7 separate regions of the Homo sapiens genome follow, and regions 2, 3, 4, 5, 6 and 7 are each linked to region 1. The links come from fine-mapping of genetic effects on gene expression. A gene starts in region 1. Each other region holds a variant in brackets. All regions are shown on one strand. Distances are from middle to middle. Region 1 holds the start of B4GALT5 (beta-1,4-galactosyltransferase 5). Region 2 has its middle 25 kb from the start of SLC9A8. Region 3 has its middle 19 kb from the start of SLC9A8. Region 4 has its middle 11 kb from the start of SLC9A8. Region 5 has its middle 12 kb from the start of PTGIS. Region 6 has its middle 49 kb from the start of B4GALT5. Region 7 has its middle 39 kb from the start of B4GALT5.

What was found.
Region 2: its variant is fine-mapped to the expression of B4GALT5 in whole blood (TOPMed, PIP above 0.99).
Region 3: its variant is fine-mapped to the expression of B4GALT5 in whole blood (TOPMed, PIP above 0.99).
Region 4: its variant is fine-mapped to the expression of B4GALT5 in whole blood (TOPMed, PIP 0.99).
Region 5: its variant is fine-mapped to the expression of B4GALT5 in whole blood (INTERVAL, PIP above 0.99).
Region 6: its variant is fine-mapped to the expression of B4GALT5 in whole blood (TOPMed, PIP 0.96).
Region 7: its variant is fine-mapped to the expression of B4GALT5 in whole blood (TOPMed, PIP above 0.99).

Annotation. Positions count from the first base shown.
Region 1 is chr20:49,711,983-49,716,049 of GRCh38, reverse strand. It overlaps B4GALT5 (beta-1,4-galactosyltransferase 5), which reads left to right and starts at 2,172. Exons shown (of 9, transcript NM_004776.4): 1 at 2,172-2,474. The coding sequence starts at 2,360. RefSeq lists silencers at 1,960-2,289, 2,580-2,699.
Region 2 is chr20:49,785,915-49,789,981 of GRCh38, reverse strand. No RefSeq gene overlaps it. Among named protein-coding and RNA genes, the nearest start is that of SLC9A8, 25 kb to the left of the region's middle. RefSeq lists an enhancer at 4,060-4,067. The variant C/T (reference allele first, on the strand shown) is at 2,498.
Region 3 is chr20:49,792,143-49,796,209 of GRCh38, reverse strand. It overlaps the pseudogene RNU6-919P. Among named protein-coding and RNA genes, the nearest start is that of SLC9A8, 19 kb to the left of the region's middle. The variant A/C (reference allele first, on the strand shown) is at 2,298.
Region 4 is chr20:49,799,932-49,803,998 of GRCh38, reverse strand. No RefSeq gene overlaps it. Among named protein-coding and RNA genes, the nearest start is that of SLC9A8, 11 kb to the left of the region's middle. RefSeq lists an enhancer at 929-1,058. The variant C/A (reference allele first, on the strand shown) is at 2,088.
Region 5 is chr20:49,578,209-49,582,275 of GRCh38, reverse strand. No RefSeq gene overlaps it. Among named protein-coding and RNA genes, the nearest start is that of PTGIS, 12 kb to the right of the region's middle. RefSeq lists an enhancer at 1,582-2,156. The variant C/G (reference allele first, on the strand shown) is at 1,813.
Region 6 is chr20:49,760,450-49,764,516 of GRCh38, reverse strand. No RefSeq gene overlaps it. Among named protein-coding and RNA genes, the nearest start is that of B4GALT5, 49 kb to the right of the region's middle. RefSeq lists an enhancer at 3,926-4,067. The variant G/C (reference allele first, on the strand shown) is at 2,075.
Region 7 is chr20:49,751,335-49,755,401 of GRCh38, reverse strand. No RefSeq gene overlaps it. Among named protein-coding and RNA genes, the nearest start is that of B4GALT5, 39 kb to the right of the region's middle. The variant C/T (reference allele first, on the strand shown) is at 2,124.

The DNA.
Region 1 (4,067 bases):
AAGTGCTGGGATTACAGGTGTAATCGCCCAGCCTACCTTTAAATATTTAGCAAAAAATAAAAATTTTCAACATATGAATATAGATACATACATGTGGAAAAATGATAACAATGATCAAATCCAGGTGGGGAGTGTACAGATGTTTCTTGTACTATTCTTTCAACTTTTCTGTATGTTTGAAAATGTTTCATAGATACGAGGGTTGGGAGGGGCCATTGTGTGGGCCAACAAAAACTATTTGCAAGTTAGATGATTCCGGCTAGTCTGGGATTTCTGGTCCAGGGCCTTACCTGCACTATTTCATCGAATCCACATCACATCCCCGTGGGGTGGGCAGCACTGGGTCCGATTCACAGGTGATGAATAGAGAAGCTCAGAGAGGTAAGTGACTTTCCCAGAGTCACACAGCCAGGAGATGCCAAGCCGAGATTTGAACTCACATCTATCTGAGTCAAAATTCTCTGCTTTCCTTTTTGATCGTTTAAGCCTCTTCTCTTCCACCATACCATTCTCCAGGGGTATTGAATTAGGTGACAGCTAAGCACTCTTACTATGTGCACTTTGCATGTATTACTTAAATCCTCGCAACAACCTGATGAGGTTGCTAATAACCTCCTCCATTTTACCGAGGCACAGAGAGTTTAACTTGCGTGAGGTCACACAGCTAACAATGGAAAAGCTGGGAGTCAGAGAACCTGGGCAGTGTGGCTCTAGACTCCCCACTTAAAGGATCAAAGAAACACTGTAAAAAGTAGAAATCACTTTAGGAATATAAATCAGAATTATTGTTGATTCTCACAGAATCCCTGCAAAGTCCTCTCCCCTCCCCACTGCTTCTGGCATTCCAAGACAGTACCCTAGTTTCAGATATGTCTACACAGGGACACTGGCCTCCTCAGTCCAGCTCCTTGAGGCTACTGCTTCTTGCCATAAATTTCTAGGACTGTTCATTGCCTTCTGAGGTCCTTTGAGCTGATGCTGATCTGAAAGCATTTTTTTGGATATGGTCCCATACCCAGGTGATGGGGATAGGATACCGATTTGCCTGCAGGATAAGAATTAGAGGTCATACAGACTGCTGAGACAGTTACAACCTAGAGGTCAAGGGCCTGACATGGGAGACAGGCCAGTTTTGATTTAAGCCCTTACTGCAAGGCTTGGGTGAATTGCCTTTCCATCTAGAAACCTCAGTTTCCTCATTTGTATGATAGTAATAATAACAGCACACATCTCAAGACTGGTGGGGGAATTTCATGGCATGAGTGAAGTCCATGTTTCTCAGCAGAAGTCTAGAGACATTGACAATTGTTATCATTATGCTATTTCTGATACAGTAGGATCCCTGACTACAGCTCCAAGCTCATCCCTATTTCCCCCCCTACTTCACTGGATTTTATCCATGTTGGCCTTGGATTCAACTCGGGGGCAGATCAGCCCTTTTCCTACCTCAGGGCCTTTACACCTGCTGTTCCCCCTGGTATGACTGCTTTTTCCCCAGCTTATTCAAAAAAGCTGGCGCTTTCTCACCCTTTTATATCTCAGTTCGTGTCACTGCTCAGTGAGGCCTTCCTTGACCACTCCAGCCTGCCTGCAATACATCCTCCTGTTTTATCGTATTCATATGTGTTACCAGTACCTGATATTACTAGCTGATTTGTTTCTTTTATCTCTCACATAATGTAAGTTTCAAGTAGACAGAGATTTTTATCGTTTTTTTTCTCTGTAGCATGCCCAGCGCCAACAACTGTGTCTGGCATTCAATAAATAAATGGTGAATTGAATGAATGAATGAATGAATGAATGAGGGTGTATACCAGGCCGAACCCCCAAGCCTTGCAGTCCCCACTCTTCTGCTGCAGTGGGCAACGAGATGAGTCAGACTTTGTAGATGGCCCCTTGGCCCCCGAGATGGGGGACGAGCTAGCGCGGAGCACTTGGGAGACATTCCCCGAAAGCCTGGGCGGTGGCCGCACTGGGAGAGGGTCTGTCGCCATTTGGCGATTACTCCATGCGGGCTGCTGTGGGCGCCGAGCGAGGGTCGGCGGCGAGCGCAAGCGCGCGGGTCTTTTGCGACGGTGCCCGGCGGCACTGGCCCCGCCTCCCGCGCGTGCGCCCCGCCTCCGCCCCCGCCGCTGCGCCCGCTCGGGGCCGCTCTGGCCCCCGCCCGCTTCATGTGGCCCGGCCCGCGACGGCCGGCGGCTGGGAGCGGCGAGGCGGCGGCGGCGGCGAGTGGCGGCCCGCGAGGCCCGGGAGGCGGTGGCCGAGGCCCAGGCGGTGGCGGCGGCGGCCCAGGAGGCGGCGGACGGGGAGCTGCGGGAGCAGGCCCGGCCTGGCTCTCTAGCGGCCGCCTGGCTGCAGCATGCGCGCCCGCCGGGGGCTGCTGCGGCTGCCGCGCCGCTCGCTGCTCGCCGCGCTCTTCTTCTTTTCTCTCTCGTCCTCGCTGCTGTACTTCGTCTATGTGGCGCCCGGCATAGGTAGGAAGGGGGCTTGGGACCGCGGCGGCTGCCGCTCTGGCCTTGAGGGACCCGGGGAATCCCCGCCCCTCCCTAAGGGGCCCCGGCCGGGAGGCGGCCCTGAGCCTGGTCCTCCGAAGACTCCGGAGTCCTGGCCCGGCTCTCGGGGACGCCAGGACATTCCTGCCCTCCGCACCCCAACAGGCGCCCGGGATCCCTCTCCCGCGCCAGCCTCCGGCCCACCCCGCCCCTCCTAACGCCACCCTCGCGAACCCGACTGTACCTTCACGCCCGCCCCTTGCTCCGGAACCCCCTTCCCGCTCTTGCCTCGCTGGAACTCCCACTTCCCGCTCCTCTGCTCGAGAACTCCCGCTTCCCCTTCCCTTCCCCGGGGTCTCCTCGAACCCCCATTCCCGGCATTCCCCGCACCCCAGTCCCCCGCGGCGCGCCCGCTCTTCGCCGAGCCCATGTGCCCGGGTCCCAGGCCGCCCCACCTTCTAGCTCCCATCCATCCTCCCCCACTCCCCATGACTCCATCGTTTCCTGCTCCCGTGAGCCCCCTCCCTCCCCTTTCTTCCTCTACTTCCCCTATTACATCCACCTCCAGGTCCTCCTCCCTAACTCACGTTCACCTCTTCAGTGGCCTGATCTCTCTGCCTGCCGGTGGCACCCCCCTTCCCCTTACAGAGGTCCACCCCCATTCAATCTCCTGCTAATCCCCTGAGCGTCCCATGCCTCTTCCCCATCTCCCCCCCCCCCACCTCGCGTACCCACAAGGGCACATCCTTGTCACCTTTGCCCCCAGCCCCCCAGACTTTCAGCCACAGCTTCTTTCTCAACTGAAGACCTGGGGAAGGGGTGCTGTCTGTGTTCTTTCTTCCACTTCTGCCCTCTCCTAGCCTTGAGGGTAGATGGTGTGGTTCTTCAGTATTGGATAGTGCCTGCTCTGCGGACAAAGGAGAAGTTTAAATTGTCCGTAGAGAAGGGGATATGATTGGGGCCTTTGGGAAATGGTACCAGGTGAGAAGGGGGAGCATGGAGGAAAGATGTAATGGGTACTCCTTCTTTTCAAAGTCTTATCCTTTAAAGGAAAGGCGGTCTCTGGAGAAACTGACCCTCCCACCCCTCCCCCGCCTGCCCCAAGCATAGTCTTTTATAAGACCACAGGGCACCAGTTAGGACAGGAAGAGATCAGAAGGAAAGACAGCATGAAGGTTAAGAGCGGAGGACACAGAGGTCAGACTTGGATTCCAATCTCTGCCCTGTATGACCTTGGGCAGGTTACTAAGCCTTTGCATTTCTCCTCTGTAAAATGGGAATGTGAGTCCCAATCTCATACAGTGTTAAGGATGGAAGTAGATACATGTTCTTTAAAAGCACTTACCACTGTACCTGGTGCTTGAAGAGTTTTAAAAATAAGTAAATAAAGGCAGCTATTACATGTAACTTCCAGGAAGAAGGGAGTTAGGTGGAACGCTTAAGGAATGTGTTTGCCTGACTTGGCATCACTATGAGGAAACCTCAGTTTATGGTGAAAAATGATCAGAAGATGCTGCTGGGGTAGGGGCAGGGAGAGTAAATTCTGCTAGAAAAATTTTGGATTATATGGATTTT
Region 2 (4,067 bases), 74 kb before region 1:
CTGGGCAGCTGGGGCTCAACCCTGCTGGGGAACTGTGGGACACAGAGTGCAATACACCTCAGAATTATCCAGGTGAAGGGCAAGGGAGTGGGGACATTTATCCACCAGCCCCTGTCACTCATTGGTTAAGGGCTGCTTGTAGGGGAGGGTGAAGCCCCCAGCATTCTCAGACTGTGTATGCAGAGCGTATATGAGAGCAAAGCCCTCAGGCTGCAAAGATAGGCGTGGAAATTTGAAGCCATCCACTCACTGTGGGTCAAAAGGATGAATGCCAAGGGGATATGGACACAGAAGCCACGTCATCTGCTACAGTGACTTAAGTCCAAAGAGGAACCATATTGAGGATGGGCGCGGTGGCTCATGCCTGTAATCCCAGCACTTTGGGAGACCAAGACAGGTGGATCACTTGAGGTCAGGAGTTCAAGACCAGCCCGGCCAACATGACAAAATCCTGTTTCTACTAAAAATTCAAAAAAGTTAGCTGGGCGTGGTGATACGTGCCCATAGTCCCAGCTACTCAGGAGGCTGAAGCAGGAGAATTGCTTGAACCCGGGAGGTGGAGGTTGCAGTGAGCTGAGATGGTGCCACTGCACTCTAGCCTGGGTGACAGCGAGACTCCATTTCAAAAACAAAAAACAAAAAAACAACAAAGAGGAACCATATTGACTCATGGAGAATAACATGTTCAGGAATATGTGGCTGCCTTCAGGTACAGCTGGATTCAGGGGTTCATAAGTTATCAGGGCTCAGTCTTTCACTCTCACAATGGTGGCTACCTTTGAGCTTCAGACCCTCTTCATACCAGCCTAGCGCAGCAGAAGCAAAACAATCCCAGCAAAAACCTGAGGGATAACTCACTGGTCCACTTGGGGCAGGTGCCCATTTCTGAGCCAATCCCTATGGGCAGAGAAATGAGGGGTGCTGATTGGCCAGCATGGAGCATTGGCCTTCCTGGAACCAAGGATAAAGTTAGTGCTGCATGCCTTTCACATGGACAGGGAGTAAAGAAGGGGGCTCCCAGAGAAATTAGGATGCTGTTATGATAGGGGAATTCATAGTGAGTAGACAAAACCAAAAGGATAGATGTAATCTAAATCCCCACTCTGCAGACAAGGAACTACTACCTTAAAAATATACAATAAAATATTTTTTATTATCTATCCCTAGGTAAGGGAAGGGCCTTGTCCCAGCTCATTCAGTTAGCAGCACCCAGCTTCCTGTCTTCACCTGGTGTCTTTTCTTCTGGAGCAGGTGGTCTCCCAATAAACAGGGTTTGTTTACCCAACACAAACACATTAGTGTCCTTCCTGTCCTAGCTTCTTCTCCCAATCCACACTCAAGGTGACTCTACTACATATATTCCTGTTTTTTGTTTTTAAGAGACAGGGTTATGCTCTATTGCCCAGGCTGGAGTGCAGTGATGTGAAGAAGCTGGGACTACAGGCATATACCACCACACCCAGCTGATTTTTTTTTTTAAACTTTCTGTAGAGTTAGGGGTCTCACTATATTGCCCAGGCTGGTCTCAAACTCCTGGCTTCAATCAATCCTCCCGCCTTGGCCTCCCAAAGTGCTGGGATTACTGGCATGAACCACCCACTGTGTCTGTCTACTTCCTGCTTTTGTTAAATTAAAAAAAAAAGAACATATTTATTTATATATATATATATATATATATATATAGACAGAGAGAGAGAGAGATGAGACAGATATAGCTATAGATAGATAGATAGATAGATAGATAGATAGATAGATAGATGTATACACATATGTTGAGATGGGGTCTTGCTCTGTCATCCAGGCTGCAGCACAATGGCGCAATCAAGGCTCACTGCAGCCTCAACCTCTCAGGCTTAAGTAATCCTCCCACCTCAGCCTCCTGAGTAGCTGGGGCTACAGGCACACGCCACCATGCCCAGCTAATTTTTTTAAAAAATTGTTTTGTAAAGGCAGGGGTCTCATTGTGTGGCCCAGGCTGGTCTCGAACTCCTGGCCTCAAGTGATCCTCTCACCTCAGCCACACCTGGCTTAAATAAATATTTAAATCCCTATTTTCAAGACAGAGAAACTGAGAGTTTAAACAAATGATGTAATGCTGGGGTTGACATGAGCCATGTGGGCATGTCGGGGAACAGTTCTTCACTGGCTATAAGTTAGTCATGTGGCTACCCCTAGCTGCAAGGAAGGCTGAGATAGGTAGTAAAGCCATGGGAAGCCATGTGCCAAGCTAAAAATCAGGTATACTCTTACTAGGAGAGAGAAGACAAGAACACAAATTAAGGGATCATTTGCAATCTTTGACCAAAACAACTGACTCTGAGATGATCCATAAAAGGTAACTGCTATTGTTGTCTCTTTTTTGAAAAACTCAGAAGGTATATTTGTTTTTGTTTGTTTGTTTCTGTTGAGACAGAATCTTGCTCTGTCACCCAGGCTGGAGTACAGTGGTGCAATCTCGGCTCACTGCAACCTCTGCCTCCGGGGTTTAAGCAATTCT[C/T]CTGTTTCAGCCTCCCAAGTAACTGGGATTACAGGCGTGTGCCACCACACCCGGCTAATTTTTGTAGTTTTAATAGAAACGGGGTTTCACCATATTGGCCAGGCTAGTCTTGAACTCCTGACCTCAACTGATCCACCCACCTCGGCCTCCCACAGTGCTGGGATTACAGTCATGAGCCACCCTGCAGGGCCTCAGAAGGTATATTTGAAAGATGCGCATAAATGCTGGGTACTGATATCGTTCTGCACTGGACTTTGGAATCAACAAAATAGAGTTTAAATTTTTATTTCATGCCTTCCTGGGCTGTATGACGTTAGGAAAGTTCCTTAACCTCTCTGAACCCTGCTTTCATCATTTGCTAAGCAAGGATAATGGTATATTACTCATCAACGGCTGGGAAAATCAAATAAGACAATGGACATAAAGTTGAAGTATAGTATTCAGTCCAAAGAGGGTGTTCAATACATGGTCATTTTATTGATAAGGAGTGTATGCTGGGTTAGAACATGAGCTTGGAGATCAGAGAGACCTGGCTTTAAATACAGACCTTCACTTCCTGGCTGAGCAAATTATTTAACCTCTCTGTGCCTCAGCCTCCCAATATTTGAAATGGAAGCAGTAACAGTTCCAGCCCACTGGGTGGCTGAAGCATGAAAGAATGGATGGCACATTTTATTTTATATTTTATTTTATTTTATTTTATTTTATTTTATTTTTTGAGAGATGGAGTCACCCTCTGTCATCCAGGCTGGAGTGCAGTGGCACGATCTCTGCTCACTGCAACCCCTGCCTCCCAGGTTCAAGCGATTCTCCTTCCTCAGCCTCCCAAGTAGCTGGGATTACAAGTGCCCACCACCATGCCCAGCTAATTTTTGTACTTTTAGTAGAGATGGGGTTTCACCATGTTGGCCAGGCTAGTCTCGAAATCCTGACTTCAAGTGATCCACCCGCCTCGGCCTCCAAAATGCCCGGCCAGATGGCACATTTAAACCAGTCAAGCAAGTATGCTTTCGCTTTATTTTGTGTTATTATTAGGTTCCTTTTTCTCTTTGAGGGCATGGAGGAAGAGACAGGGTCAAAAGGCTGTTGCTACAAACATACAAAGTTTGTAGTAAGTAAGTCTTACACAAAAGAATACGTGTTATGTGCTGCCATTTCATCAAGTTCAAAAAACGGCAAAAATCATCACTGCTGTTGGAATCAGGATAACGGTTATCGCTTAGGATGGGAAAGACTTGAAGGGAGCTTCTCCGGGGCGGGGAATGTTCTGTTCCTTGAGCTGGGGGCTGGTTACCCCGCTGTCTGCCTTTGTGAAAATGTATCGAGCCATCGCTCCCCTGTGCACTTTCCTTATTTGTGCACTTTTCTGTATGTCTGTTACACTTCAATAAAAAAGTTTTCCCCCAAAAGTCTCTGTGGTCTGTTGGAAGCTGGCAATGGCCAAGGGGCTGAGGCGCACAGGTGGGGACCCTTCCTTGCTAGCCACCGCAGTTTCTGTTTCAGCTTGAGGTACAGCAATCAACTTCCTCTTCAGATGCATGACTTGCTGCTGACCTCTAGAACCTCTGGC
Region 3 (4,067 bases), 80 kb before region 1:
ACTCCAGCCTAGGCAACAGAGCAAGACTCCATCTCAAAACAACAACAACAACAACAACAACAACAACAACAATTGAGGTCTTTCTTTTTTGCTTTTTTTGTTTGTTTTGTTTTGTTTTTGTTTTGAGATGGAATCTCGCTCTGTTGCCCAGGGTGGAGTGCAGTGGCGCGATCTCAGCTCACTGCAAGCTCGACCTCCTGGGTTCACACCATTCTCCTGCCTCAGCCTCCTGAGCAGCTGGGACTACAGGTGCCCGCCACCACACCTGGCTAATTTTTAAATATTTTTAGTAGAGACGGGGTTTCACCGTGTTAGCCAAGTTGGTCTCGATCTCCTGACCTCGTGATCTGCCCACCTCAGCCTCCCAAAGTGCTGGGATTACAGGCGTGAGCCACCACGCCCGGCCTGTTTTTTTTTTTTTTAAGAGTCAGTCTTGCTCTGTTATCCTGGCCGGAGTGCAGTGGTGTGATCATAGCTCACTCCAGCCTCCAACTCTTAGCCTCAAGACATCCTCCCACCTCTTCTTCCCCAGTACCTGGGACTACAGGTGCATGCCACCATTCCTGGCTAATTTTAAAATTGTTTGTAGAGATGGGGTCTCACTATGTTGCCCAGGCTGGTCTTGAACTCCTGAGCTCAAGCGATCCTATCGCCTCAGCCTCCCTAAGTGCTGGGATTATAGTCATGAGCCTCAATGTCCAGCCTGAATTTGAGGTTTAAAAAATTCACACAGGGAACACATCACCACTGTAGAAAAAATTTAGAAATATAGGCACATAATAAGATAACATAATTCAAAAATCTCATCAATAAGCCAGCTGTACAATTTTTGACAATTATGCTCAATCTCTTCATGCCTCTGTTTCTTCTAAACAGAGTGATCAGGAAAGTCTCTCTGAGGAGGTGGCATTTGAGTTGAGGCCTGAAGGATGAGTTGGAGCCACTACGGGAAGAGTGTTCCAGGCAGAGGAAGCAGCACATGCAAAAGTCCTGAGGTAGAAATGAACTTGGCCACTGAAGAGACAGGAGGACAGCCAGTGGGGTTCATGAGAAACAAGAGACAAGGAGAGTCGAAGGAGATGAGATCAGATCATGAACTAGATTAGGGTCAGATAACAGAAGAGGAAATGAGCTTGAGGCAAGAGGGCCACTGTGCGTGCCCAGCACAGCACAGACGTGGGCCAGTGACTTAAGCAGAAGCTTTATTCATCAGCATTGGCCTCCCAGGAGGAAGAGAGGGTGAGAGACGTGAAAGACACCACCAGTCAGTCTGGCACTTTTTTTTCTTTTTTCTTTTGTATATCGAACACCTCACAATTTTTTATGTCATTCTTGCACAGGGGCCATGCTAATCTCTGTATTGTTCCAATTTTAGTATATGCGCTGCCAAAGTGAACACTTTTTTTTTTTTCCCAAAGACAAGGTCTTGCCCTGTCACTCAGGCTGGAGTGCTGTGGTGCAATCGTAGCTCACAGCAGCCTCGACCTCTTGGGCTGAAGCCATCCTCCCATCTCAGAGGCCTCTTGAGTAGCTGGGACTACAAGCATGTGCCACCACGCCCAGCTAATTTTTAATTTTTATTTTGTAGAGATAGGGTCTCACTACACTGACCAGTCTGGTTTTGAACTCCTGGGCTCAAGCAGTCTGCCTGCTTCAGCCTTCCAAAATGCTGAGATTACAGGCATGAGCCACCATGCCTGGTGAGTCTGGTACATTTTTACCAAGTGCGCTCACTGTGCCAGGCCCCGCCCCAAGTCCTGGCCTCCAGGCATACTTGCAGAAAAGATCAGAAACTCAGGGACAGCCAAGGCTAGAAAGAGGCATTTTTCTGAAGAGGATGCTTGATTGGCCAAAAAATGGATGGAAAGGTCCTCAAGGTCCCTTCTAAGCAGGCAATGCAACTTAAAGCACTTAGAGACATTTCACAGTCATAAACTGGCAGCAACTTGAAAACCAGAAAATTCCAAGGCCTACAGGAGTGATGAACAGCCCAGGCTCTGGAACCAGCCTCTCTGGGTTCATGCCATGCTCTACTATTCCTAGCTGAGTGACCTTGGGCTAGTTATTTGCCCTCTCTGTGTCTTCATTCTCCATCTATCTAGTGGAGATGATGATAGTACCTCACCTCAAAGTTTTTTGAGAGGTTAAATGAGTTATTTCATGTTAGATGTTTAGAAAGATGCCTGGCACATAGTAAGTGTCATGTGGGGTAGTGGTATTATTTTCATCGGTAAGGAAGTGCAGAAACAAGAACTCTTCATGTACTGCTGCTTGGCAGTTGAAACGTATGAACTCTG[A/C]GACCAGTGATCCCACTTCCTGGTATTCACCCTAGAGAAGCTTCAACATATGCAAAGTTGGGTGTGGCAGCTTTGCCTACAATGGGTCCAAAGTGCAGTGGACTAAATAGGCATCCATGGGATAGTGGGCAAGGAGACCATGACATGTTCCTGTAAAGGAATACTAGTGAGCAATTAAAATCAATGAATGGTGTGGCTCGCGCCTGTAATCCCAACACTTTGGGAGGCCAAGGCAGGTGGATCACCTGAGAGGTCAGGAGTTTGAGACTAGCCTGGCCAACGTGGCAAAACCCCGTCTCTATTAAAAATACAAAATTAGCCAGGTGTGGTGCCATGTGCCTGTAGTCCCAGCTACTCAGAAGGCTGAGGCAGAATCGCTTGAACCCAGGAGGCAGAGGTTGCAGTGAGCCACTGCACTCCAGCCTGGGTGACAGAGCGAGACTCTGTCTCAAAAAAAAAAAAAAAAAAAAAAAAACAATGAATGAATGGCTGGGCACGGTGTCTCACGCCTGTCATCCCAACATTTTGGGAAGCCAAGGTGGGAGGATCACTTAAGCCCAGGATTTCAAGACCAGACTGGCCAACATAGTGACACCCCATCTCTAAAAAAGAAAATAAAATGAATGAACTAGATCTAAACAGATCTTAAACATACAGTAATGTTGAGTGAGAAAAGGGACTTGCAGAAGTTAACATTTAGTATGATACCGTTTGTGTAAATATTAAATCCACAAAACAATGTCATATATGTAGTAATAACAGGGTGATAATGAAATATTTAAGAACCGGCATGACCTAGGCACTGACCAGTCAGAACAGAGGCTGGCCACATGGGTCCCAATGGGTGGTCCACACTTCCATCACTCCTAGGATGAAGATGTGGCTTCTCCACGCCCACCAGCACTTCTACCTTCGCCACACCTGTCCTGTTCATTCTATGCCTTATTAGCATTAGCTGTGTGACCTCAGACAAACTGATTCATCTCTCTGGGCTTCAGCTTTTTCATCTATAAAATGGGAATAATAGTAGCAAAAGCTAATACATACACAGCATTTCCCATGTGCCAAGCACTCATTGTAACCCTCATACTAACTCTTTGTGGTAGGTTCTATGATTACTCCCATTGTGCATATGAGGAAACTGAGGCACAGAATGGCTGAGTAATTTGCTCGTGGTCTGGAGAACCTTAATTACAGGGTTGTTGCAAATACATACTAAATGATACATGTTAGCAGCTTAGAAAAAAGTCTGGCACTGAATAAGTGGTCAATAAATATCAGCAGGCAGGGCACGGTGGCTCACACCTGTAATCCCAGCACTTTGGGAGGCCACGGTGGGGGGATTACCTGAGGTCAGGAGTTCAAGGCCAGATTGGCCAACATGGCGAAACCCCATCTCTACTAAAAATACAAAAAATTAGCTGGGCGTGGTGGCAGGCTCCTGTAATCCTAGCTACTTGGGAGGCTGAGGCAGGAGAATCGCTTGAACTGGGAGGCAGAGGTTGTAGTGAGCCAAGATCACACCATTGCACTCCAGCCTGGGTAGCAAGAGTGAAACTCCATCTCAAAATAATAAATAAATAAATATTAGCAGTTGCTATTATGTCACTGCCTTACTCATAAGCATTCAGTGGTCACCACTGGCCTTAGGAGACAGTTTGAATTCCACATCATGGACCACAAGGTCATGGTCTATTCCCTTACCGCCCCTCTTCCTTCCCTCTGTTCCCCTTGTTCTCTGTTCTCCAGTCAGAGAGAAGTGGGCTTCTC
Region 4 (4,067 bases), 88 kb before region 1:
AAATACAACTCATATAACAAAAACTTCATTTTAACATGTGCAATTCAGTGGGTTTTAGTGTATTCACTATGTTATGCAACCATCACAACTGTCTGATTCCCAAACATTTCTGGCACCCCAACAAGAACCTCTGCACCTATCAGCAGTCACTCCCTGCTGCCCCATCCCCTGGCAGTCATTACTTTATTTTCTGTCTCTATGGATTTACGGATTCTGAACATTTCATGTAAGTGGAATAAAATCTGTGGCATTTTATGACTGGCTTCTTTCACTTAGCACAATGTTGTTTCTTTTTCAAATTTACTTCCTTGTGACCTGTCATCCCCATTAGGCTCACAGGGGGTCTAGTACCTAGACTAGCACCTGACATAAATCATTAAGTATGGATTAAGCACCTACTATGTGCTATGTCCACAGTAGCACAGAAAACTCCAAGGAAACTGCCTTTTTTATTTTATGTTTTTCAGAATTTTCAATTATTTCTTCTTCTAATTTTTATTTATTTTATTTTATTTTTGAGACAGGGTCTCACTCTGTTACCCAGGCTGGCATACAGTGGCACAATCACTGCTCACTTTGGCCTCAACCTCCTGGGCTCAGGTGATCCTCCACCTCAGCCTCCCAAGTAGCTGAGACTACAGGCACAACCACTGTGCCTGGCTAATTTTTGTATTTTTTTGTAGAGGCGGGTTTTCGCCATGTTGTTCAGGCTGGTCTTGAACTCTTTGGCTCACGGGATCTGCCAGCCCGTGTCTCCCAAAGTGCTGAGATTATAGGAGTGAGCCACTGTCCCCGGCCCTTTATTTATTTTTTATTTTTTTATTTTTGCAAACTTTTTTTTTTTTTTGAGATGGAGTTTCACTCTTGTTGCCCAGGCTGGAGTGCAATGGCGCGATCTTGGCTCACCGCAATCTCTGCCTCCTGGGTTCTCCTTGCCTCAGCCTCCCAAGTGGCTGGCATTACATGCGCCTACCACCACGCCCAGCTAATTTTTTGTATTTTTAGTAGAGATGGGGTTTCACCACGTTGGCCAGGCTGGTCACGAACTCCTAATCTCAGGTGATCCACCCGCCTCGGTCTCCCAAAGTTCTGGGATTACAGGCGTGAGCCACCGCACCCTGCCCAGGCATTTTCAATGAAGGGGAAACTTTCTCCATAACCTCTATTTTCCCCTCAGTAATCCTCAAGTCTTCCCGGTACACCCTCAACACAGGTGATGGGCTAAGGGTTCATAGACGGTTTGGGGAAGTCTCCCCTTTTCTAACTCAGCAGACATTCAGCTGTCTCTAGAGAGAGCCACAGTACCTCAGCACGAAGCCCTTAACCAAAACTGAAACAAAAGAAAAGTCCCATTACACACCTGTTTCTAAGGGGTTTTCCCGTCTCTTTGCTTCTTATTCAAGACAAATCTGTGGGACAGTTAAAATATTTGCCATAAATAAAAAGATATAGGCTGGGCGCGGTGGCTCATGCCTGTAATCCCAGCACTTTGGGAGGCCGAGATGGGTGGCTCACGCGGTCAGGAGATCAAGACCATTCTGGCTAACATGGTGAAACCCCGTCTCTACTACAAAAAAAAAAAAATTAGCTGGGCATGGTGGCGGGCGCCTGTAGTCCCAGCTACTCGGGAGGCTGAGGCAGGAGAATGGCATGAACCCGGGAGGCGGAGCTTGCAGTGAGCCGAGATCACGCCACTGCACTCCAGCCTGGGCAACAGAGCGAGACTCTGTCTCAAAAAAAAGAAGGGGCCACAGGACAAGGAATGCAGGAAGCTTCTAGTTGCAGAGAGAATCGCAAGTAAGGAAATGGGGGCTTCAGTTCTACAGCTGCAAGGAACTGAATTCTGCCAACAATCTGAAAAGAGTCCAATTCCTCCCATAGCCTCCAGATGAGGACTCCAGTGAGCTGACATCTCTGCTTCAGCCATGTGATGCCCTGAACGTATAACACAGCAGAGCCTGCATGAGCTTAGGACCTACAGAACTGTGAGCTAATACATGAGTATCACTTAAAAGGAAAAATAGATATATTCACCTTGCTGCCGTCAGTCCTCAGCTGAAAGTGGGTTTGCTTTGAGTACCCCAGGG[C/A]GGGCCAGCTCTCTTGGGCCAAGGGGTAGACAGAGAGGCTGATTGGGAGTTAAGAACCCAGACACTGGAGCCAAGCTTCCGGGGTTCAGATCTCAGCACTGCCACTTACTGCCTCTGTCATGTTGGGCAAGTTAACCCCCTTGTGCCTCAGTTTCCCTGGTATGTATTTCAGAGTATTATTTTTGGGTGAAGTGAGCTAATATTCAGAAGTTCTTTTTTCTTTTTTTCTTTTTTTAAGACAGAGTTTCACTCTTGTTGCCCAGGCTGGAGTGCAATGGCGTGACCTCGGATCACTGCACTGCAACCTCTGCCTCCTGGGTTCAAGCAATTCTCCTGCCTCAGCCTCCCAAGTAGCTGGAATTACAGGCGCCCACCACCACGCCCAGCTAAGTTTTTGTATTTTTAGTAGAGACGGGGTTTCACCATGTTGGCCAGGCTGGTCTCGAATTCCTGACCTCGTGATCCGCCCGCCTCGGCCTCCCAAAGTGTTGGGATTACAGGCGTGAGCCACCGTGCCCAGCCTATTCAGAAGTTCTTGAAGCCATGTCTGTCTGGCACATAAGTACTTCATGGATGTTTCTTAAATAAAATAACCTCCCCCAGTCAATATATATGTGCATAATGGGGCGATTGCTTCAAAGTAGGGCTGAGCCCTTCGTTGCTTCTCCTGGGTTAGAAATACCAGTTGTTAGCCTGGGCAACACAGTGAGACCCCATGTCTACAGAAAAGAGAAATAAATAGTCAGGCACGGTGGTGTGCACTTGTAGTCCCAACTACTCAGAAGGCTGAAGTGGGAGAATAGATTGAGGCGGGAGAATAGATTGAGCCTGGGAGGTCAAAGCTGCAGTGAGCTGTGATCGCACCACTGCACTCCAGCCTGGGTGACAGAGCGAGCCCTGTCTCAAAAAAAAAAAAAAAAAAAAGAAGTACAAGTTGTGGTGACATCTAACCGCATATTTTCTTGTCTAATTTAAAGCCCAAAAGGGAAGTTTCTCTCTATTTCCTAGTAGGGGGAAACTAGAAAAAGCCCAATTATCTAGTAATAGAAGAATAAGTGCAGGCACTAAAAAGGATGACTCATATCTATGGGTATTAACTTGGGAGGGGTCTCTGCTCTGCCTTAGCAATGTAGTATAGTGGTTAACGTCATGGGCCTTGAAGCCAGATTACTTGTTTCTGAATTCCAGCTTGGCCACCTTGTGTGATCTTGGGTAAATCACTTAACTGCTCTCTGCCTCAGTTTCCCCATCTATAAAATTGAATTAATAATAGTGCTTATCACACAGGACTACTGTAAATATAAAATGGATTAATACACAGAGAGCAACTAGCATATGCATTGTACATACTCAATAAATCTTAGGATTACTGTTAAATAAAAAGATAGCACAGGTTCACTTTAGAATTAAGTACATGTGTATGCATTTAAAAAATCTATGGGCTAACTTACAAAATGCTCCAAAATTATGACTGTTTTTTATTCTATTCCTCACACTTTTCTGTATTCTCTGAAAATGCTTTTTCATAGTGATGAGCCAATACTTTTTTTTTTTTTTTTTTTTTTTGAGATGGAGTCTCGCTCTTGTTGCCCAGGCTGGAATACTACTTTTATAATCAAGAAAAAAATTTAAGTAATTCCCTTTGAGGGTCGGGAGCTTAATAAACAACTTTGCCCTCCAGCGTTGAGACCATCCATGAGTTATTTGCCCAACCTCATCTTCATGTGTTTGAGGATTGTTTTTGCCTTGGAAATTCTTGAACAGGAAACCAAGTCCGCTCCCTGTAAATCAGGATGGGCCTGTTAAAGGCTTTACTGGAGCGAGGAGGGGCGGTCCTCCTTCTTCACCCTCTCCTCTGTATTTTGGGGTAGGAGGGAATGACTCACCCTTCTTTTGGTTTGGCCATTTTTTCACTCCCAGTTTTTTTCACCCCCAATTTTTCAACGAAGTGTGGGAAACAAACGTGGCCCATCCGATCAA
Region 5 (4,067 bases), 130 kb after region 1:
ATTGCTTAAAAAACAAACTCTGATAGGTCAGCTGGCTGTTGCGCTGTTAGTCTTTGCTGGGGGACCAGGCACTTCTTAAGATGGTTTCTCCTCCTGCAGCTGGCTAGCCCAGGTTTGTTCTCATGGTGGCTATCCAGAGTTCCAACAGAGAGGGGAGAAGTGAAGAAGACTCTTGAAGCCTAGGTTGGAAGCAGGCACAGCATCACTTCCCTTGGATTCCAGTGGTCAGAGCAAGTCTCAAGGCCAAGCCCAGATTCAGATCATGTGGAAATAAACTCACACTGCAAAGGGCTCGGATGCAGGAAGGTCATTAATTAGGGCATCAATGTGAGAAAACTACCCTAGTCTCTACCTCCAGATCTAGAAGTGGGAAGGCGACGCAGGCCTGACCGATATGAGCTAGAGAAAGAAGTAAAGGGATTTGCATCTGACCTTAATAAGGCCAACCAGAGTTAGTCCCAGAGTCTCCTTCTGCTGGCATCACCAAGCTGCCAGGGCATAAGGACTGCTAAGGCTATCTTGATACAAAACAGGGAGAGGCTGCCTGAGGGAGAAGCCAATACAAAGGAAAGCATTGCTTAGAGAGAGAAGTGAGTCCTGGCAACATCCATGGAGCCCCTGGATCCTGCCATTCCTGAAGCTGTTTTTCTTCCCAGTTCCCTGAAGCCAGGATTTCCCACCACTGGACTTTCCCTGCTTGAGCCATTAAATTATTGTTATTATTATTGTTAATCAGGTAGAGAGAGAGAGAAAGAGTTTTTCCTTTTGGGATCAAGCGCCATGGTCAATTGGAGCACAGATGCCTCTGAATCTTGCCTTATGACCAGGAATGGGAATACACAGTTAATAGGAGCAGAGAAAAGGCAGGCCTCGAAGTTGAACATCCTGGAATCTAATGCTGCCTCCGTTACTTGCAAGCTCCACAATGTTGGTTAAGGGAGTCCTGATTCTTTCCATCCAGAATGGTTATGAGGATTCAAGGAGCTTGCGTACCTATACGGCTTTGTGCAGAAGGGACACTCACTAAATGACATTTCCTAACCTTGACCTCTCTCCTCGGAGCTCAGTTTCCCTGTTACCAAAGTGGTGTTCAGGCAGAAGCTTCTTGAAGAGGAGCAGAGGAAGGTGGGAAACTGATCAATGGAGTTTGTCCCTGAAATACCCCAGGGGAAGCCTGTCTTGCCTAAATAGACAGTTTAAATGATTAGCCTGGCTTAAGATTTTGTATTTCTTCCAGTGTGAGGGCTCATGACCAACATCATACCATGGACACAGAGCAGTAGCAGGGACTTTTGTGGTTTTTATTAAATGCCACACCCGTGTGTACATATGTCCCTTAAAGGAAACTGAGACTCAGAGAAGTTAAGTGACCTGCCTGAGGTCACATAGTGGCAAAGCCAAGATGTAAACCCAGGTTCTCTGGCTCCAGCATGTCTCTTGCTCCTAATCACTGAACTAGATGACATCCATGGAAAATGTAAAAGGCTCATTTTTCTTTGCATATCTGAGTTCAGAGTAAGGAAAAGTTCAACTCCAACACACTAGCATATCTATGTAAACAGACCCTTAATTTTTGTGTGCAGGAAGGAGCATTCCAGGACTTATAAACTAGCTATGCTTGGGCTGTTTCCAGGTCTGGACATATTTTATTTGGTCCACACAGTATCTTACATACCGGAAAAAATGCACATTGGAAAAATAAGCCTTTCCCCCACTAGCTTCTCTTAAAAACCATAGGGCTAGAGCTGAGCAGTGAGGTTGGATTTGAAGGGGGAGTCTGTCCACTGTAGGGGGAGGGTGGGGAGGAGGCTT[C/G]GACCCCTGAATACAGCTCAGTCTGAGGCAGTTTCCTGCGCCCTGGGGAGACCCCATCTGGGTCCTGGGTTTCCCAGGAGGCGGCCATTCACTCCAACAGGGAGAACAATGCCCTCCTGTTCCCCTGCCAGCCTGGAGTCCTGGGAGTGAAGAGAGGCAGCCTGGGCCTCTGACTGGAGCCCAGACTCCACCATTCCCGGTTCTGTGGCCTTGCCTTCTGTCTGGGCTTCCCATTCCTCATCTGTAAAATGCGCACACAGCCGTCCCTGCCCAGCTTTCAGCCCTCCCACCCCACTTTCTGACCCGCCTTTGGGGGATCATCCTTCCCACCTTGTTTGGTTGACCATCAAGGTCTGTGGGCAGGCACATGACCCAAACATGGCCAATCAGACTTTCTCGTGGGAGAATCAGAAACTGAAGCGGAAGGAATGCTGAGATTGGAAACAGCTGGAGCCCCGAAGACCTGGCCACTGGTTCCTGCTCCCCACACCCCTGGCTCCTGCTCCCCGCGTTCCCGGAGCTGCTTGTTCCTGTCCTTTCCAAGTCCCAGCTGGTCAACTTTTCCTTCCAATACCTCGTCCCCACCTTTTCTTTTTCTTAAATTAGCCAGGGTTGGTTTCTGAGGCTTGAACAAACCCAAGTACTCTGCCTGATGCCAGCATGACAATTTCTGCTTCTAAAGCTGGTATGAGGGTCAAATGCTATGCACTAGAGTATAAACTGTGAAGTGCCATCCACATATGAGGAATTGTCCAGGCACTGGCACATCGCAGTTATGAACTTGGGCCTCAGAATCAGAATTTGATTCCCAGCTCCACCCCTTTCTTGCTGTGTGACCTTGGGCTGCTTGCTTCCCCTCTTTGAGCTTCAGTTTCCTCACCTGGAAAGTGGAGATGATACTGGTATTAAGACCAGCTATATACTTTGTGGGTACCAGAGTAAAGTAAAATCATGGGGACCCTTGTTCAAAAATAATTAAGAATTTCAAGCTGGTGACAGGAGAGCGCTAAGCCGAGCATGAGACCATTCTGGGTGCAGGGGCCTATGTGAGCACCCAGGTTGCATGTCCATGAAGCTGGCCCTGACTGCATAGAGCTTGCTGCGAATGGGGCATCTTATCCAGGCTGGGCAAGGAGTGCAAAGCTGTGTCACTCTAATTCATATCTGGTTGCCTCCCAGAAAGCCCTGGAGAAGGTTTACGAAATGAGAATGTAATAAGGTTTCATCCATTAAGCACCAGGTATGAAACAAGTACTTCACATACTACCTTATTCAGCTTCAGAATGGAGAACTTTCTTCTATTGCAAGTGAAAGAAACTCAACCCAAATTGGCTGAAACAAGCAAACAAAAATAATTTAATGGTTCATGTGGTCAGGAGCATTCTGGCTTCAGGCATGGCTGAATCCGGGGGTTCAAATGATATCTCAAGAAACTGTATTTCCCTATCTCTTGGTTCTGCTGCCCTGTAAGTCGGTTTCATTCTCAGACATGCTATCTCCAGGCAGAGGCAAAAGTGGTCCCCCAGTATCCTGCCAGGTCAGAAATCACAGGCAGAAGGTCCTTCTGATCACCAAATAAATGGTTAGGGAGACAGAGAACTCTCTCCAGCGTGTCTGGTATTAGTGGAGGGAGGTTGGGAGGCTGTGAAAATAATGCTAATAGCCCACATTTATCCAAGGCTTTCCATACTTCCAGAGATTAACTCTTTTCATCCTCACAACCAACTCCATTTGACACCTGGGGAAACAAAGGCACAGATAAGCAATATGCCTGAGGCCTTTTAAGTGGGGGGGCGGGTGCCAGGCTTTGAGTTCACATAGTCTGGCCGTGGAGCCCAGGCTCTCTCACTCTAGCCCTCTGCGGACATGCAGGACATGTAGACATTTGGGCTATGTGATTGCCTGTGCATCAGAGTTTGGAGCTGTGAACCATGAGCGTGGCTGAACATCCACCAAAGATTTCTATTTTTTTTTTTTTAAAGCAGTGAAATGTTTGTGTGTTTGAGATGAGATTTTTTTTTAGACAGCATCTCACTCTGTTGCCCAGGCTGGAGTTCAGTGGCGCGATCTTAGCTCACAACCTCCGCCTCCCAGTTCAAGCGATTCTCCTGCCTCAGCCTCCCAAGTAGCTGGGATTACAGGTGCCTGCCACAATGCTCAGCTAATTTTTGTACTTTTAGTAGAGATGGGGTTTCACCATGTAGGCCAGGCTGGTCTTGAACTCCTGACCTCAGGTGATCCACCTGCCTCGGCCT
Region 6 (4,067 bases), 48 kb before region 1:
AGCGGATCACCTGAGGTTGGGAGTTCGAGACCAGACTAACCAACGTGGAGAAACCCCATCTTGACTAAAAATACAAAATTAGCTGGGTATGGTGGCACATGCCTGTAATCCCAGCTACTCGAGAGGCTGAGGCAGGAGAATCACTTGAACCCAGGAGATGGAGCCTTCAGAGAGTCAGACCGCACCACTGCACTCCAGCCTGGGCGACAGAGCAAGACTCCTTCTCAAAAAAAAAAAAAGAAAGAAAGAAAGAAAAAGAAAAACGCCTAGACCTGGAATTTGCAGGGGAAAGAGCAAGACTGTCTCAAAAAAGGACTTAGAGGATCAGAGAAGAGTCACCAGTCAGATTGAGAAACCAAGCACATCCAACTGCTGGAGTAAAACTGCAAAAGGGAGGTGGTGGAGAGGTCTCTGGGAAGCAGTTCTTTGTGAGTCTACAGCCAAGAACCTAGTCATGGGCCTAAGCCAACTTTTGGAAAGCAGGCCAACAGTTAGAAAAAAGAGCTAGAGGTCAGGCGCAGCGGCTCACGCCTGTAATCCCAGCACTTTGGGAGGCTGAAGCGGTTGGGTCACCTGAGGTCAAGAGTTTGAGACCAGCCTGGCCAACAGGTTGAAACCCAGTCTCTACTAAAAATACAAAAGTTAGCCGGCATGGTGGTGTGCGCCTGTAGTCCCAGCTACTTGGGAGGCTGAGGCAAGAGAATTGCTTGAATCTGGGAGGCGGAGGTTGCAGTGAGCCGAGATAGTGCCACTGCGCTCCAGCCTGGGTGACAGAGCAAAACTACATCTGAAAAAGAAAAAAAGCTAGAGGTAGTATAGGAGAGAGCAGAGAGCAGTCCTGAAAACAGACAACCATAATCCAGTTTGATAGCTGTTTCAACAGGGTAAACACAAAGGTGCAATGGGAGCCCTAAGGGGTTTCAGAATCCAGTCTAGAAATCAAGGAAGGTGGTTGGGTGCGGTGACTCATGCCTGTAATCCCAGCACTAATGGGAGGCCAAGGCGGGCAGATCACTTGAGCTCAGGAGGTTGAGACCAGCTGGACAACATGGTGAAACCCCGTCTCAACTAAAAATACAAAAATTATCTGGGCATGTTTGTGGGTGCCTGTAATCTCAGCTACTCAAGAGGCTGAATCGTTTGAATCCAGGAGACGGAGGTTGCAGTGAGCCAAGATCGCACCACTACACTCCAGCCTGGGTGATAGAGCGAGACTCCATCTCAAAAAAAAAAAAAGAAAAGAAATCAAGGAAGGCCTCTTGGGGGAGAAAACATTTGAGTTGAGACCTGACGAAGGAGGAGACAGCCACATGAAATGGGGGAGGAGGGAGAGAAATTAGCATACGCAAATGTCTGGAGGTAATATAGGATATTGTCAGAGGTGTTAGAACCAGAGCGACTCCATCTGGAATAGGGGCTGGGTAAAATGTGGATGAGACCCAACGGGCTTCATTCCCAGGAGGTTAGGCATTCTTTCTCACAGGTTGAGATAAGAGGCCAGCAGGATTCCTATCACAAGATACAGGTCATTGAGACCCTGCTGACAAAACAAGAGGTAGTAAAGAAGCAGGTCAAAAGCCATCCAAACCAAGATGATAACAAAATCGACCTCTGGTTGTCCTCACTGCTCATTATACACTAATTAGCATGCGAAAAGACACTCCCACCAGAGTCATGACAATGTCCAGAAGCTACCCTATATGATCTAAAAAGAAGAGAAACCCTCACTTCCAGGAGCTCCCCAACCCTGCCCTGGAAAACTCATGAAAAATTCACCCCTTGTTTAGCACATAATTAGGAAGTATCCATAAATACACTCAGTCAAGCAGCCCATGCTGCTGCTCTGCCTACAGAATAGCCATTCTTTTATTCTTTTACTTACTTTTTTTTTTTTTTTTTTGAGATGGAGTCTCACTCTGTCGCCCAGGCTGGAGTGCAGTGGTGCGATCTTGGCTCATGGCAACCTCGGCCTCCTGGGTTCAGGCAATTCCGATACCTCAGCCTCCTGAGTAGCTGGGATGACATGGGCGCACAACCAGGCCCAGCTAATTTTTTGTATTTTTAGTAGAGATGG[G/C]GTTTCGCCATTTTAGCCAGGCTGGTCTTGAACTCCTAACCTCAGGTGATCCCCCTGCCTCAACCTCCCAAAGTGCTGGGATTACAGGCATGAGCCACCGCGCCCGGCCTTTATTCCTTTACTTTCTTAGTAAACTTGCTTTTGCTTTACTCTGTGGACTCATCCCGAATTCTTTCTTGTGAGAGAATTCTTTCTTGTGGTCTGGATCAGGACCCCTTTCTAGTAATAATATTAGGCAATTAAAAGTAGTTCAGTCTGGCTGGGGAACAAGTATGAAGTAGGAAGGGTCATGGGTGATGGCAGGGGACCAGGAGGTGCCAGATCTTGCAGGTCTTTATCAGTGAGGAGTTCAAACTCTGTCTTAAGAGTACTGGGGGGGTGGCCGGGCACAGTGACTCACGCCTGTAATCCCAGCACTTTGGGAGGCCAAGGCGGGTGGATCACCTGAGGTCAGGAGTTCAAGACTAGCCTGGCCAACATGGTGAAACTCCGTCTCTACTAAAAATACAAAAATTAGCCGGATGTGGTGGCGGGTGCCTGTAATCCCAGCTACTCAGGAGGCTGAGGTAGGAGAATCACTTGAACCCAGGAGGCAGAGGTTGCAGTGAGCGGAGATCGCACCACGACACTCCAGCCTGGACAAAAAGAGCAAAACTCTGTCTCAAAAAAAAAACTGAAAAAGTACTGGGGAGCCATGGGAGGGTTTGAAGCAAGGGAGAGGTAAGTATTGTTGAGGAAAAAAGCCAAACTCCGTAAAATATTTGAAGAAGTTTATTCTGACCCAAATATGAGTGATCATGGCCCGTGACACAGCCTCAGGGGGTCCTGAGGACATATGCACAAGGTGGTCAGGTTGCAGTTTGGTTTTATACATTTTAGAGAGATGGAAGTCACAAACAAAGACATAAAGCAATACATGAAATGTATACATTGGTTCAGCCTCAAAAGGCAGGACATCTCAAAGATGGAAGCAGAGGGACTTCCAGGGCATAGGTGGATTCGAAGATTTCCTTATTGGCAATTGATTGAAAGAGTGAAGCATTGCCTGAGGAGTTGAAGTCAGCATAAAGAAATGTTTGAGGTCAGGTGCGGTGGCTCACACCTATAATCCCAGCACTTTAGGAGGCCAAGACGGGTGGATCGCTTGAGCCTAGGAGTCCCAGGCCAGACTGGGCAACATGGAGAGACCCCTGACTCTACCAAAAATTAGCCCAGCGTGGTGGTACGCACCTGTGCTCCCAGCTATCAGGAGGTGGAGTCAGGAGGATGGCTTGAACCTGGGAGGCAGAGGTTTCAGTGAGCTGAGATCACACCACTGCACTCCAGCCTAGGTGACAGGGTGAGAACCCAACTCAAAAAAAAAAAAAAGAAAGAAAAAGAAATGCTTGAGTTAAGGTAAGAGAGTTGTGGAAGCCAAGGTTCTTGTTTATGTAGATGAAGCCTCTAAGCACCCAGCTTCAGACAGGATAGATGGTAGATTTCTCTTATTAGACCTCAAAAGGTGTTAGACTCTTAGTTTAATTCTCTCCTGGATCAGGAAAAGACCTGGAACAGGAAGGGGATTCGCTACAGAAGGCAAAGAGTGGGCTTTGCAGGGTCACTCCAAAATATGTCAAATAAATATATCTTGGGGTAAAATACTTTGACTTTCCTTAGGGCCTGTTATCTGTCACTGTTATGCTCTACATCACATACAGGGTCAGGTTGGAATTTGGTATCTTATTGCACAAAGAGTCTGTTTTGTCCATCTGATGATCTGGTTTTTTGTGTTTTGTTTTGTTTTTTGAGATGGAGTCTCGCTCTGTCACCCAGGCTGGATTGCAGTGGAGCGAACTCAGCTCACTGCAACCTCCACCTCCCAGGTTCAAGCAATTCTCCTGCCTCAGCCTCCCAAGTAGCTGGGATTACAGGCGCCTGCCACCATGCCTGGCTAATTTTTGTATTTTTGGTAGAGACGGGGTTTCACCATGTTGGCCAGGCTGGTCTCAAACTC
Region 7 (4,067 bases), 39 kb before region 1:
TTTTTTTGAGATGGAGTCTTGCTGTGCTGCCCAGGCTGGAGTGCAGTGGCACGATCTCGGCTCACTGCAAGCTCCGCCTCCCGGGTTCACGTCATTCTCCTGCCTCAGCCTCCCGAGTAGCTGGGACTACAGGCACCCGCCACCACGCCCAGATAATTTTTTTGTATTTTTAGTAGAGACAGGGTTTCACCATGTTAGCCAGGATGGTCTCGATCTCCTGACCTCGTGATCTGCCCGCCTCGGCCTCCCAAAGTGCTGGGATTACAGGCGTGAGCCACTGTGCCCAGTCACTTTTGTGCCTGTTTTTTTATTTTTATTTTTTAATTTGAGACAGGGCTTCTCTGTTGCCCAGGATGGAGTGCAGTGGTGCAATCATGGCTCACTGTAGTCTTGACCTCCTGGGCTCAAGTGATCCTCCCACCTCAGCCTCCCTAATAGCTGGGACTACAGGAACACACCACCACCACTCCAGGCTAGCTAAAACAATTTTTTTTTTTTTGAAGAGATAGGGTTTCACTATGTTGCCCAGACTAGTCTGGAACTCCTAGGCTCAATCAATCTTCCTGCCTTGGCCTCCCAAAGTGCTGAAATTACAGGTATGAGCCACCGTGCCAGACTTTTGTGTCTTGATACTGGGTGAGTCAGTAGCATGGGCAGAAGGAGTATCCTGGAAGCCATTTCTCTGCCAGGACAACAAGCAATACTTTCCTTATTCACCGAAAAGATCGTGAGCTACAAGACTACATCCCGCTAAAGCTGCGTGCAGTGGTGCACACCTGTAGTCCCAGCTACTCAGGAGCCTGAGGTGGGAGGATCACTCGAGCCCAGGAGCCCAAGTCTAGCCTGGGCAACACAGTGAGACCCCCACCTCTATTAAAAAACAAAAAAAAGATTACATCCACTAAACCCAAATTTAATGGATTCCCTAACTCATCTTCCCCTTAGCTGATCCCTGCCCATAGCTCCCCAAATGCCACCCGATGCACATTCCCAGGCAGGCAACGTTGGGGAGCTGGAGAGACCTTGTCTAACCAGTTGCAGCTAAAATACTTACCTTTGCAGATGTTGCAGAAACACATGACTGTGTGAACATATTGCTAGATTTGGAAGGGGCTGTGCAATTGAAGAGCCCTGATCTCAGCTTTGCTTCATTCACTTAATGGTGGATCTATCTCTAGATTTTCAGAAAAGCTGGACAGGACTATGTGATGAATCAGATGTAAAAAGTGAGTGAAAGGCCAGGCGTGGTGGCTCATGCCTGTAATCCTAGCACTTTGGTAGGCCAAGGCAAGTGGATGACTTCAGGTGAGGAGTTCGAGACCAGCCTGGCCAACATGGCGAAACCCTGTCTCTACTAAAAATACCAAAAAAAAAAAAAACCAAAAAAAAAAAACCTGGGCATGGTGGCACACACTTGTAATCAGCTACTCCAGTGGCTGGTGCGCAAGAATCTCCTTGAACCCAGGAGGTGGAGGTTTCAGTGAGCTGAGGTGGCGCCACTGCACCCCAGCACCCCCCAAAAAAAGTGAGTGAAAGAGAGAAAAATCCAGAATTATTTCAGTGTATTTTTGGCTTGAGTAACCAGGTATTTAGTAAGGGAGAAACAGGTTTGGAGGGTGAGGAATCATAAAGTTTAATTTTATTAGACAGGCGTGGTGGTGTGCACCTGCAGTCCCAGGAGGCTGAGGTGGGAGGATTGCTTGAGCCTGGGAAGTTGATGCTGCAGTAAGCCAAGATTGCACCACTGCACTCCAGGGCAGCGGAGTGAGGCTCTGTCTCAAAATAATAATAATAACAATAAAAGTTTAATCTTAACCATGTTAAATTTGAGATTCTTACTAGACATTAATGAGCAGTTGGACACAGAAATTAGGCATTTATTATCTCCACAGTTCTTAATAAGTAAATCTTGCATCTGTAGGTTTTTTTGTACTTAGTCAAAGCATCCCAATAGTTACAATATTTGCATATATGTGTGTACTATATTATACACACACATATATACTTCTATTCATCCATCTATCTCTCTACAATTTACCCGGAAGATGATGCATGAAACTAGTCATAGTGCCTGCCTCTGGGGAGGGGGGACTGTTGGCTACAGGATGGAGGTGGGAGGGAGG[C/T]GGGAAGCATACTTTTACTCTGCTTGAATAAAGAACTGGAGACTAAGAGGAAACTTACTTAAGGTCACAGAGCTGGTGGGTAGCAGGGCTGCCATTTGGGCTGAGGTTGGCCTGGTCCCAAGTCCAAGCTCTTTCTGTTCTGACAGGTTCTCTCTCCTAAATGTATACCTCCAGGATCAATGCTGTCTTTCTTGCTGCCTCTCCCTGGTCTGGCTCCTCTGTGTGTCTCACTGCGGCATCTCCTGTGGCTGAGCATTAATAACTGGCTAAAAGGATTCCTGCCTGTGGCCAGGAAAGGCTGGGTGCACTCTTCTTCCCCTCCATTCTGGAAATCATCTATGTAGCCTGTGGCTACAGCTGCAAGTGAAAATAGTGCTGGAAGGTTCCCAGAAAACACACCTGCCCCAAATGGACCAATTTCTCCTGCCTTCCTTTACTTAAAGATTAGAGATGTTCAGAATTCTGGTCACAGGCCTGGGTTATAACTGCTGCTCTTTCACTGCTAATGGTGCTGTGTGTCCTTGGGAAAGTTACTTACCTTCTCTGTGCCTCGATTTCCTCATCTACAAAATGATATTAATAGCAGTAGCTATCTCACAGGACTGTGGTAAGGGTCAGTGAGCCAGCAGGTGTAAACTGCGTGGCTCTCTGCCTCTCTGGCACACCATCAGTCAACAGGCATTGCTCCCACCCCACACATGCCCTTCCCCCACAGTGCCTTAGCACATGGAGTTCCTTCTACCTGGAATGCCTTTCCCTTCCCCTCTTATTAGTCTAACCGTCTAATTAATGACCACTCACCCTTCAGAGCCTCCAACATTTTACTGTAACATTCACAAAGACAGGACTGCTTGTGTCCCAACACCCAGCACACATGGTATTTGGCATATAGTTGGCATTCATTAATTGTTTATCCATTGAGTGAGTGAATGACTAAGTGAATTAATAAGGTGAAAGATCAGTTAATGCTCACTCATTCAATATATGTTCTGTAAATGAGGATAATAAATACCCATCTGACTGTATCATTAGGCTTAAAAATGCTGCGCATTTAGGTCAGGCACAGTGGCTAACGCCTGTAATCCCAGCACTTCGGGAGGCTGAGACGGGTGGATCACTTTGAGGCCAGAAGTTTGAGACCAGCCTGACCAACATGGTGAAACCCCCGTCTCCACTAAAAATACAAAAAATTAGCTGGGCGTGGTGGCACACGCTTGTAATCCCAGCTGCTCCGGAGGCTGAGACATGAAAATCACTTGAACCCAGGAGACAGAGTTTGCAATAAGCCAAGATGGTGCCACTGCACTCCAGCCTGGGGGACAGAGTGAGGCTCTGTCTCAAAAACAAAGAAACAAAAAAGCAAAAATGCTGTTCATTTAAGTGTCTAGAGTGATACCTGGTCAGCAGCACTGAATAACATTTATTATTAGTGCTATTTTATATTATTATCATTTTAAAAATTTTTTGTCGTTTTTGTGGAGACAAGGGGTGTGGGGAAGGGGTTGCCAGGTTGCCCAGGCTGGTCTCAAACTCCTGGGCTCAAGTGATCCTCCTGCCTCTGTCTCCCTGAGTGCTGGGATTACAGCTGTCAGGCACCACACCCAGCTATGATCATTATTATTATTTCGCACAGGTGTTCTTGCATCTTACTGGTGGGCTTAGGCGTTCTTGGCCCTGCTCTCATGGACAGGCCCCTTCAGAGCTTCACCTTGGCAGCTGGATGCACTTCTCTGTCCAAGCAGCCTCAGCCTCCAGATGCAGGAATGTTCCTGTCTTGGGGAAACAAATTCTTAGCTTCAGGCCTGACTTCTGCCTGGCCTTGGCTTCAGTTTCTTTGTAGATAACTTCATTCAGCTGCAGAGCATCATGGACATATCGTGTGGTTTCTGCCCAGTTTGTGGTGACCCATCTCTCTTTGAAACAGGTGCAACTACCCCATGAAAC